Linked DNA regions of Homo sapiens: region 1 is linked to region 2. A link means that fine-mapping ties the variant in region 2 to the expression of a gene that starts in the linked region. Tissue or cell type: putamen. Region 2 holds a variant in brackets; the other region holds the start of a gene. All regions are shown on one strand. Distances are between the middles of the regions. Region 1 holds the start of TULP1 (TUB like protein 1). Region 2 overlaps TEAD3 (TEA domain transcription factor 3).

Region 1 (5,000 bases), 23 kb after region 2:
GGCTTCCCAGGTCTCCTGGAAATGGAAGATGGGGGTCAGGCAAAGAAGGTGTCTACTGGGGCTGAAGGCTGCCTTCCAACCCTCTTGTCCTGCCTATAGTCCCCAGGGAGGCTGAAAGCTTGACAGGGGCCCACAGCCTGCCTTCTTTTTCTTTTTTTTTTTGAGACAGTCTCACTGTTGCCCAGGCTGGAATGCAGTGGCAGGATCTCGGCTCACTGCAACCTCCACCTCCAGGGTTCAAGTGATTCTTGTGCCTCAGCCGCCCAAGTAGCTGGGATTACAGGCGCGCGCCACCACCCCTGGCTAATTTTTGTATTGACTTCTGCTCATTTTGGTTTTTCTTTCCCTGAGGCCAAAAAAGCTCTGGACAAAGACCAGGAGCTTAACAAGCAGTTCCCGAATGAATGAACACCAGGCCTTCTAACCGAGCCTCTGAATCCTGCCTTTTGTCCCATGTCCTCCAGGAAACCTTCTCTGGTCACCACTACAGAGTGTGCTATCTCTGCTTCAGAGGCCCAAGGTCCTAGCTCTAGGCCAGGCTGCTGGTCCCTAACAGGTAATGTGCCCAGGCCAGGACACCATCACAGCATTGATTCATTGATTTCTTTTTACTGTAATCACTTTGATACTTTTATAAAAATGATAACAATTTCCACTGAGTTAAAACAAAAACTAAACAAAAATCACAAAGAAAACTAGAATCCTCTGTCCTCCTCTGCCTCACAGAGCTCAAGGGGCAGGGGCAGTGGGGCCAGGGGTGGAGGCATATATTGGTCTATGTCCTTAAGGACCATCGTGGGGAGAAATTATCAGAGGAAAAACCCTCCGGTCACAGCACTGGGTTCATTTTGAGGCCTCAATCGCTGTGTCTCAGTGAGACGCCAAGCCCTCCAAGGACAGGGCTGTTCTGCTTCCCTGTGAGCTCTCTCAGCACCCTCAGCACCCACCCCTTGGGCCCTGGGCCTTGGCCCTCCTCTCCTTCAGGTCTGCGGAGCTCTTCTCTCTCAGGGGCTTCTTGGGAGGCAGAAGGATTTTCTCTTTCTTTTCCTCTGCCTCCTCTTCCTCGTCCTCCTCGTCCTCCTCTTCCTCCTCCTCCTCTGCAGGTAGAAACTCTTCATAATGGGGGTTTGAGCCGGGCCCTCCTTATCTGGGGAGCCCAGTTCCTCCAGACTGCTGGGAAGTGGTGCATGGGCACCAGAAGGGGAGCCTGCCCTTCTGAAACAAGAACCGGAGACCTGGCACCTTCCCAGAAGAATGAGGGTGACTGGCAGCCTTCAGGGTCTGCAAATCAGGGGAGTGGCTGGGGTTGGAGGAATCCTGTCCTGGGGAAATGCCCTCCCTCTCTCCTCCTGAGACCCTCCTCTCCTTACACGCTCGCCTTGCCTCCTTTCCCCATCTCCCTGCATCCACTGTGCTTCTCCCTGACCTTGTCTGTTTCTGACCTTGAGTCAGACCCATCTGGGCTACTTCTGGCTCCTAACTGCTGGTTAAGGCAAAAACCCTTAACGGCTCTATGACTCAGTTTCTCCATCTGTACAATGGTGGAGGGGGGGAACAAAGCACCCTCTCATAGTTGGTGCTTAGCACAATACCTGGCTCAAAGATAAGGCCAGAAAAGTGGGGGCTATTTGACTACAGTTGTTTTCTGCCTCTCTGGGCCGTTCCCGTCCAGCCAGCCCCTTCTCTCCTTAGCTCCACCGCCCCCTCACCCGCGTCCCTGGGGCCCTCTCTCACCGTCCTCCGCGTCTGGGGCACGGGCTACCAGAAAGGTTTCCCGGGGGTCGCGCTTCTTGGCCTCGGGGTCCCTGAGGAACCTGGCGTAGACCGTCTGCGGCGCCCGGGCCTGGGCTGGGTCTGGGGAAGGCTCCTCCCGCGGCCTCCCCGTCCGCCCAGCTGAGCCGAGATGCGGGGTTCAGACAGGGTCCCATCCGCGGGTCCGCGAGGCAGCGCCTCTACCCGCTACCCCCAAGCCTGGGCGCACCCCCTCGGGCTCCTCACCCTAGGGATCTCCCCTGGGCTTGGGTTTCCACTTTCAACACTTCTCCCCGGCTTCCATTCAGCTTCCCACCCCCTTCTACCCCAACGCCACCCCCTTCTACACCAACCCCAACCCCAACCCCAACCCCAATCCCTCCCCTCTCATCACTCCCCGCCCCCTCCTCCCCCACCCCGTTCCAGGGCTCGGCGACACCCGCGCCGGCCCTCAAGCCCCTCCCTTCCGCAGCCCACACCCTGGGGGTCCACCCGGGCTCTGCACCCCGCCCACCTCCGGGCTTCCGGGGCTTGGATCCCGTGGGGCAGGGGGATTCGGGGGCCTCCGTCCTCTTCTTCCTTAGCCTCTGTGCCGGGGCGGGTCGCTGCGGAACGGGGGTCAAGAGGAGGTCGAGGAAGGAAAGGGGGGCGCTGAGGCCCGCCCATCCCCCTCTAATCCCTTGAGCCGCCAGAAATAACCGCAGATTATCCGGGGGGAACTGCAGCCCCCTTCTTGGAGTGAGGCAGGATGACCCCTTCCATGCATCGTGGCCATATCCAATGCTCCAAAGTCCCTATTCCTTCCCTGGAAACCCCAAGTCCCCAAACAGCCCTTTCTCCCCCCAGATCTCCAGACATGCAACCCCCAGACCCTGCTAAGGGGGACCTGTCCCACCCCTAGACCCCCTACCCTGCGTGGGTTTACGCACAGCGGGGACATCTTTCTGCTTCCTTTCCAAGTGGGGTGGCATACCTGTTTGGGGCGCCGCGGGGCCTCCGGGCTCAGGCTTTCTTCTTCATGCCCACTGAGGGTAGCAAAGGGATCAGCCTGTCTCCCTTCCCCTTCCCTCCCCATCCCACCCACTCCCCATCCCTCCATCTAGGCCCCCCAGGGTTCAGGTGCCACGAACTGGGGGCCTTCCAGACCTGTCAGAGGCCCACACCTCTCGGAGGGTTTCATCCCGCAGAGGCATGGTGCCTTTGCCTATCGCACCCCTTTCTCTGCAGGTCTAGGAGCCTCCCTCCCGACTCCTGCTAATCTCGGCTCAACTTCACCCCCCTTCCCCCTGCTCAAGGAGTGGAGGCCTGGCCGCGCTGTGGGAGGTGCTACAGCCCACGACCCTCCCCTGCTAGGCCCAGGCCACTGGGGGAAGAATCTCAACTCCAGTTCTTCTCAGATCCCCAGCAGCCTGCAGGATGGCCACCAGCTCCACCTGCCCCGAGAAGCCCCCAGAAGCTTGGGGTGAGAGGGGCCGATTAGTCATTTGTCAATGGGATGTGGAAGAAAACATTAGACTGGATCCTGTATTTATCTTTATTTCTCACAAAAAATAAGAACTAGAGCCAGGTGCGGTGGTTTACACCTGTAATCCCAGCACTTTGGGAGGCTGAGACAGGTGGATCATTTGAGGTCAGGAGTTCGAGGCCAGCCTGGCCGGCACAGTGAAACCCAGTCTCTACTAAAAATTCAAAAATTAGCCGGGTGCGGTGGCTCACCCCTGTAATCCCAGCACTTTGGGAGGCCGAGGCAGACGGATCACAAGGTCAGGAGATCGAGACTATCCTGGCTAACATGGTGAAACCTCATCTCTACTAAAAATGCAAAAATTAGCCGGGCATGGCGGCAGGCACCTGTAGTCCCAGCTACTCAGGAGGCTGAGGCAGGAGAATGGCGTGTACCTGGGAGGCGGAGCTTGCAGTGAGCGGAAATCATGCCACTGCACTCCTGCCTGGGCAACAGAGTGAGACTCCGTCTCAAAATAAATAAATAAATAAATAAAAAATTAGCTGGGCATCGTGGTGGGCACCTGTAGTCCCAGCTACTGGGGAGGCTGAGGCAGGAGAAGCACTTGAACCTGGGAGGCGGAGGTTGCAGTGAGCCGAGATCTTGCCAATGCACTCCAGCCTGGCCAAAAAGAGCAAGACTACATCTCAGAAAAAAAAAAAAAAAAAAGAATATGTCTGTATTGGAGGTATACCCTTAACTCTTTTTCTTTTTTCACTGATAGGGGACATGCTTTTGTGGTATTGTTTTGTTTTGTTTTAGACAGAATTTTGCTCTTGTCACCCAGGCTGGAGTGCAGTGGCACGATCCTGGCTAATTACAGTAAATCCATATCAAATGGAACTTTCTAAAATACTATTTCTTCGGTTGCCACCTTTGTTCAAAAACATTCATTGGCTCCCTACTGCCTAAGGATTAAGTTTAAATGTGTTGGGTTGACATTCAAGGCTCTCCCTGATCTGGCCCCAGTCTGCCTTTCTAACCACAGGGTTATCCCAAGCCATACTCTTCATCCAGCCACAGAGGTTTCCTTACTGCCTTTACAGTTCTGTCCTCCATGCCTTTGCTCAGGCTGTTCCCTCCCGGAACGCCCTCCCTATTCCATGAAACCTATCCAACTCTAAACAGTCCTCAAGTCGCCACTTCGGAGAGGCCTCAGTCCTCAGTTGGCTCTGACCATATAATAATAATAGCATTTATTGTCCACCTACTGTGGCTTGCTCCCATTCTGACTCCACCCTCACAATAATATTTATGAGACAGACATTAACACCCTGATATTAGGGCAAGGAGCAGTGGCTTATGCCTGTAATCCCAGCACTTTGGGAGGATCACTTGAGCCCAGGAGCTCAAGACCAGGCTGAGCAACATAGTGAGACTTTGTCTCTACAAAAAATTTAAAAATTAGCTGAGCAATGTGGTACATGCCTGAGGTCCCAGCTACTTGGGAGGCTGAGGCAGGAGGATGACTTGAGCCCAGGAGGCAGAGGCTGCAGTGAGCTAAGACAGTGCCACAGCACTCCAGCCTGGGCAATGGAGTGAGACCCTGTCTCAAAAACAAAACCAAACAACCAAACAACCAAACGAAAACACCCTGATATTAAAGGTGAGGAAACTGACAGCTGAGTGTCAGTCAACAAGTATTTCCTGAGCACCTATTGTGTGCCAAGCGCTATGCTAAATAATGGTCATACAGAGATGAACAACATGATGTGGTCCCCGCCCTCGTGCAGCTTACATGCTT
Region 2 (5,511 bases):
ATGGCTCATGCCTGTAATCCCAGCACTTTGGGAGGCCGAGGTGGGTGGATCATTTAAGGTCAGGAGCTCAAGACCAACCTGACCAACATGGTGAAAACCCATCTCTACCTAAAAATATATCAGGTCTGGACGCAGTGGCACATGCCTATAATCCCATCACTTTGGGAGGCCGAGGTGGTTGGATCATGAGGTCAGGTGTTTGAGACCAGACTGACCAACATGGTGAAACCCCATCTCTACTAAAAATACAAAAATTAGCCGGGCATGGTGGCACGCACTTGTAATCCCAGCTACTCAGGAGGCTGAAGCAGGAGAATCGCTTCAACCCAGGAGGCAGAGGTTGCAGTGAGCCGAGATCACGTCACTGCACTCCAGCCTAGGCAATAGAGCGAGACTCCTCAAAAAAAAAAAAAAAAAAAAAAAAATTAGCAGGGCATGGCAGCATACTCCTGCAATCCTAGCTACTCAGGAGGCTGAGGCACGAAGATCACTTGAACTCCAGAGGCAGAGGTTGCAGTGAGTGGAGATAGCACCACTGCACTCCAGCCTGGGTGACAGAGCAGACCTTGTCTCAAAAAAAAACAAAACAAAACACACAAAAACAAACAAACAACAACAACAAAAAACACTAAAGCAGGGAAGGTAGGGAATAAAGCCCATTATCCAGAGATGAAAACTAAGGCTCACAAGGTCACGCAGCTGCCAAAGGCATGCTGAGGAGCACAGAGAGGAGGAGCAGAGGAGCAGGGCTGTGTTTCCTCAGCTCTCCCTGTCAGCTCCTCCTCCCCAGTGTCCACATCCCCAGTCAGGGACCTCCACCCCTCACTCTCGCCCCAGCATCAGTGCAACCCTGCTAAGGACCCCTCAGGGGACAAGGAGAGTCCCTGACCCAGAAGGGCACCATTTTATCTTCCCCCAAATCGATAACTAACCAGAACTCTGCCAAGGGGCCTAATGTAGGGCAGGAACTGCCCCAGGAATTACAAAAAGGGAACTGGTGAGGGAGCAGCAGAGAAGGTGCTTGGCCAACAGCCTGGCTCAACCTCACCCGCTCCTCTATCCCACTTCCTGTTCCCGCACCTCCAGGCCCCACAGCAGCCCGTAAACCACCAACACGCCCGCCCCCGCCCTGGCCCATCCTACATGTGGGCCAGGGCTCTGTAAACTGTGAGTGCCCTGAACCTGCCAGGCTATTAATTTGGACCACACCCCACCAGGCCCCCTATCACTCACAACCCCAAGACTCACCCCAAATCCCCTTCAGCCCCAGAACCCACATGTCCAATGTATTCAGGGTCCTGGAAACCTAAGAGCCCATGATGGCTGGATCCTGGGACTTAGCTCTGGGCAGCAGGGAAAGGGGAGGGGTGGAGATGTAGGGGACACCGTCAGAAGCCAGGGAGAGGAAGATGAATTCCAGGTCCTGCTGCTTGAGTCGGGGTGGACTCTCTCTGCAGAGCCACCTGTTTGCTTAGGGAGGCTTGAGGGGATCACTAGTAGAATGAGGTGGGGAGGGCCTGGGAGGTCTGAATGTCAGCCAGTTATTCGGTTATTTTTTTTCTTTTTTAAATTTTTTATTTGTTTTTTATTTTTTAGACGGAGTCTTGCTCTGTCGCCCAGGCTAGAGTGCAATGGCGCGATCTCTGCTCACCGCAACCTCCACCTCCTGGGTTCAAGCGATTCTCCTGCCTCAGACTCCCATGCAGCCTCCCCCCTCAGCATGGTGGCACGCACCTGTAGCTGGGATTACAGGCGCATGCCACCATGCCCAGATAATTTTTTGTATTTTTAGTAAAGACGGGGTTTCACCATGTTGGCCAGGCTGGTCTCAAACTTCTGACCTCATGGTCCGCCAGCCTCGGCCTCCCAAAGTGTTGGGATTACAGGCGTGAGCCACTGCGCCCGGCCCTTGATTATTCTAAACTATTATTCAGTTAGTTATTCAGCTATTCAACTAGTTATTGTAATTATTCTAAACTATTGAGTCTAGACTTAATATTACTACTACTAACAGTACCTGTCATATGCCAGGCACTGTTCTGGGATTTCACACACATTGACTCATTTAATCCTCACAATAACCCTATGGGGCAGATACTATTATTATTCCTAGTTTATAGATGAGGAACCCAAGAAACAGAGAAGTTAAGCAACTTGCCTTAGGGCACACAACAAGTAAGTACTAGGGCTGGGTTCTGAACCCAGGTAAGCTGGCTTCGGTTTTATAACCAGGAAGGTTATAGGGAGGGTGCTGAGAGACCCCACCACCTGAGAGAGAAAGGAGGTTCAGCTGTCACAGCAACTGCCCTAAGTCTGCCCAGGAGGTCCCCCTCAACCCAAGCAACTGGAGCAACTTGAAGACCCCCGCACTGCCGTACAGCCCTTTCTGTGATGCCTCCAGAGCCACCAGGAATCTCTCTCCCATGGCCAGTGGGCGGCCAGAAGGAGCTGTGCCCCTGACCTGTCAGAGGGGCCAGATGCCCTCATTCCCAGCCTGTCCCTCACCCCAGGAAACTGGATCCAGAGCCCCAGGCCCTACTCCTCAACGAGAGGGGAATTCTTGGAATAGAAATGTGAGGGGTAAACAAAATAAATATAAATAAATAAATAAGGAAATGTGGGGGGTGGTGGCTCACGACTATAATCCCAGCACTCTGGGAAGCTCACTTGAGGCCAGGAGTTCAAGACCAGCCTGGACAACATAGTGAAAACCTTGTCTCTATTTTTAAAAATTAAATTTAAATTAAAAAAACAAAAAGAAAAAATTAAGGGGACAGGGGTGTGCTAGCTGGGTGGGGGCA[C/T]CTAGGGACTCCCCTGTTGAAATAGTTGGGATGCAGGGCCTGTCCACAGGTGTCAGTCTGACACTGCCACAGAGCTGTTAGAGGGGAGGGAGAAGAGGGGCTACAATGAGCTAAGGCCCCTCTTAACCCCTTTCCCGAGGCCTCCCTCGAGCAGCAGCGGCCCAGGCAGCCCCAGACTTTTAAAGCAACTTTCCTGCCTCCCCCAAGTCCCTGCCCGCCTCCCCTCAAGCAGGCTGTGGCCCCCCCTTCTTAGGGTGATGTCAGCCCCGCCCCGCCCCCCGCGGGAGCACTGTGGCCAAATATGGCGAACACAGCAGCAGGCTTGGGAGCTGGGACAGACTGGGGGGGCGGGGCAGGCGGCCCCTGGCTGGGACCGCTGGCAGCTGGTGAGGGGGAGGGGAGGGGGGACGGCCCAAAGGACGTGTCAAGGAGAGAATAGGACCACCGTCCCTCCCTTCGGCTGGCTCCTAGACGCATGCGAGACTCACTTTCTAGGAACGCTCCTGGGGCAGAGGCACCAACACAGGGGCAAGTGGCACTCCCCACACACAGCCATGCACAGGAGCACACTGTGCAGAGGGGCTGTGCGAGTGCTCGGGAGGACAACCACGTGAGAATGTGCACCCCCAAGCTGAGGCACACACATGGGCAGTCGTGGGCAGGCAGCTGCCCCCGTCTGGGGGCTGGACCGGGGTCTCAGTGGAAGGGAGTCTGCAGGAGGCGTGAGCACTGGCTGCTCTGTTCTCCTAGAGACCAGCATGTGCCCGCCTTCTTCTCCCTAGATCCTCTAACTGCTGGGACCCAGGCCGGGCTGAGAGAGGAGGCTATGGCTCCCTGGACAGGTGCGGGCTGGGCTGGGGCAAATGTGGGACTCTGGCTTGGTGGAGGGGTGGGACATCTAGAGAAAGCTGACTGCGGGCGAGAGGGCAAGCCCTGGGCTGCTGGCTGATGATGCCCAGGTATCTAGAAACTCTGCCTCGCTGTGCTGTGCCATGAAGAGGGGTAGGAGAGAGAGGAGACCCAAGTGAGGGTCAAGGGGAGGGAGACCAAGGCCGGGGTGGGGCCTGAGACAGACAGGAGGGGCAGGGGAGACAGGCTGGGGGAGAGTCTGGGGCAAAGAGAAGCTGAGGTGAACCCAGAGAGAAAACAGACCAGAGACAGGAGAGTCCCAGTGAGTGACAGACAGAAAGCCCAACCCAGTGGGGGACAGACCAGAGCCCCGCAGAGTGAAGGGAGAGACCCCAGGAGAGATGTGGAGGCAGGGCGGGGGAGTGCTGGACCCTCAGACCCACAGACTGACAGACAGAGCCGGTGGGGGGTGAAGGGAGAAGGGGAGAAGGAGGGCAGGGGAGGGGCACAGACAAGGCAACCAACAAAGACCTAGAAAGAGACACACAGCAGAGAGGGGTAGACCAGAAACTCAGATATGATAGGCATCGAGGGAGGGGCAGACCAGGAGGGGATGGGGAGAAAGAAAAAGACAGGGACAAGGACAGAGACCCAGAGGCCAAGGCAAAACAGAGGGAGGGAGTGACAAGGGAGGCCACTGCCAGGGGCTGGGGCTGGCCACCATCCAGGACACCCCCACTCCCATCTCAGGGGCTCCTACCCTCCACCTCCTCTCAGAACCCCTCCCATCTGCCTCTGCAGAGGAGTCCTGTTGTACCTGTCCTGCAAACCCGCCAGCAGGCTGCAGACCCCCAGGGGACTCAGTCTGCCTTCACCCTCATCCTGACCAGCCACACCCGCTTCCCCTCTCCCAGGGCCCTCAGCCTTTCAGGCTCAGAAGGCCTCTGGGTGGAGGCAGGGATGGGGGCTAGGAGGCTGGGTGAGCAGGCTTTGGGGCCCTGGGGAAGATAAGGGGCACCTTGCTGCCCACCCCCACCCTGGGGCAAGACCTGCTGGAAGAACTGGCTGGACAGCTCCAGGGATCAGGCTGGAGCTGGGGCCGCTGCAGAGGCCCTGGTCCCCCACCCCCACAGACCCTGCAGCCTCCAGACCACCCAGCCCTGTAGCTCCCTTTAGGGGCCCCAGAGCCACTGCCTTGGTAGGAGGCACAGAAAAAGCCAGTCTGGGTGAGTGGGCACCTCCTGTCTTACCCCTTCCCCTGCACCAGCCCTGCTGGGAGGACGAGCTGAGCTGTGACCTTCCTGGGTCTAGCAGCCAGCAGTCCACCCCTGCAGGGACCCCAGCCCCCAAAGCATTCTCACTTGGAGTGAGAACATCACTCAAAATGTGGCAAGATCAGTGAAATCAGCAGTTTCCTCCCAAATCTCTGCCCTCAAACCTGAGCTGGGCTGACCAGCCGGGGGGGTCGAGGATGGGGAGGGCAGCTGAGGAGGGCTAAGGGAGGCTCCCACCCTCTCTGCCTTTTCCTCCCTCCTCCCCTACCCGCCCCACAGCGGGCCAGCTGTTCTCCAGCTGCCAGAAGCTCCCACCCTAGAAGTAGCCATGCTCTGGGGCAGCAGAGCAAGTAGGGATGTATCTGTCTCCCCCACCTCCAGCCCAAGGACCCCGGAGGGACCCTGCCAAGCAGCCACACCCTGCCAGGCTGGGGAGGGCTTCCCTCCTTCCTGGAACAGGGTCTCAATTTTTACAGGAGGAAGCAATTTGCAGAGCCCACTAGGAGGGAGGTGGGGGCCCCTCCACTCTCTCCCCACCCCCCGCCCTGCTTATTAATGTGCTTCCAATTTGGGACTGGAGATTCTCT

What was found. PIP is the estimated chance that this variant, and not a neighbour inherited with it, causes the effect. A credible set is the group of variants that fine-mapping cannot tell apart.
Region 1: it holds the start of TULP1, and the variant in region 2 is the best candidate, but not a certain one, in a credible set for the expression of TULP1 in putamen (GTEx, PIP 0.63).

What each region holds. Positions count from the first base shown.
Region 1 is chr6:35,509,914-35,514,913 of GRCh38, forward strand. TULP1 (TUB like protein 1) reads right to left here and starts at 2,983. Exons shown (of 15, transcript NM_003322.6): 1 at 2,899-2,983; 2 at 2,726-2,777; 3 at 2,267-2,357; 4 at 1,735-1,893; 5 at 948-1,097; 6 at 1-15. The coding sequence starts at 2,945.
Region 2 is chr6:35,487,149-35,492,659 of GRCh38, forward strand. The region is part of intron 1 of TEAD3 (TEA domain transcription factor 3); the gene reads right to left. Among named protein-coding and RNA genes, the nearest start is that of TEAD3, 7.2 kb to the right of the region's middle. RefSeq lists enhancers at 1,144-1,719, 1,720-2,295, 2,204-5,511, 2,296-2,871, 2,872-3,447 and 2 more. The variant C/T (reference allele first, on the strand shown) is at 2,802.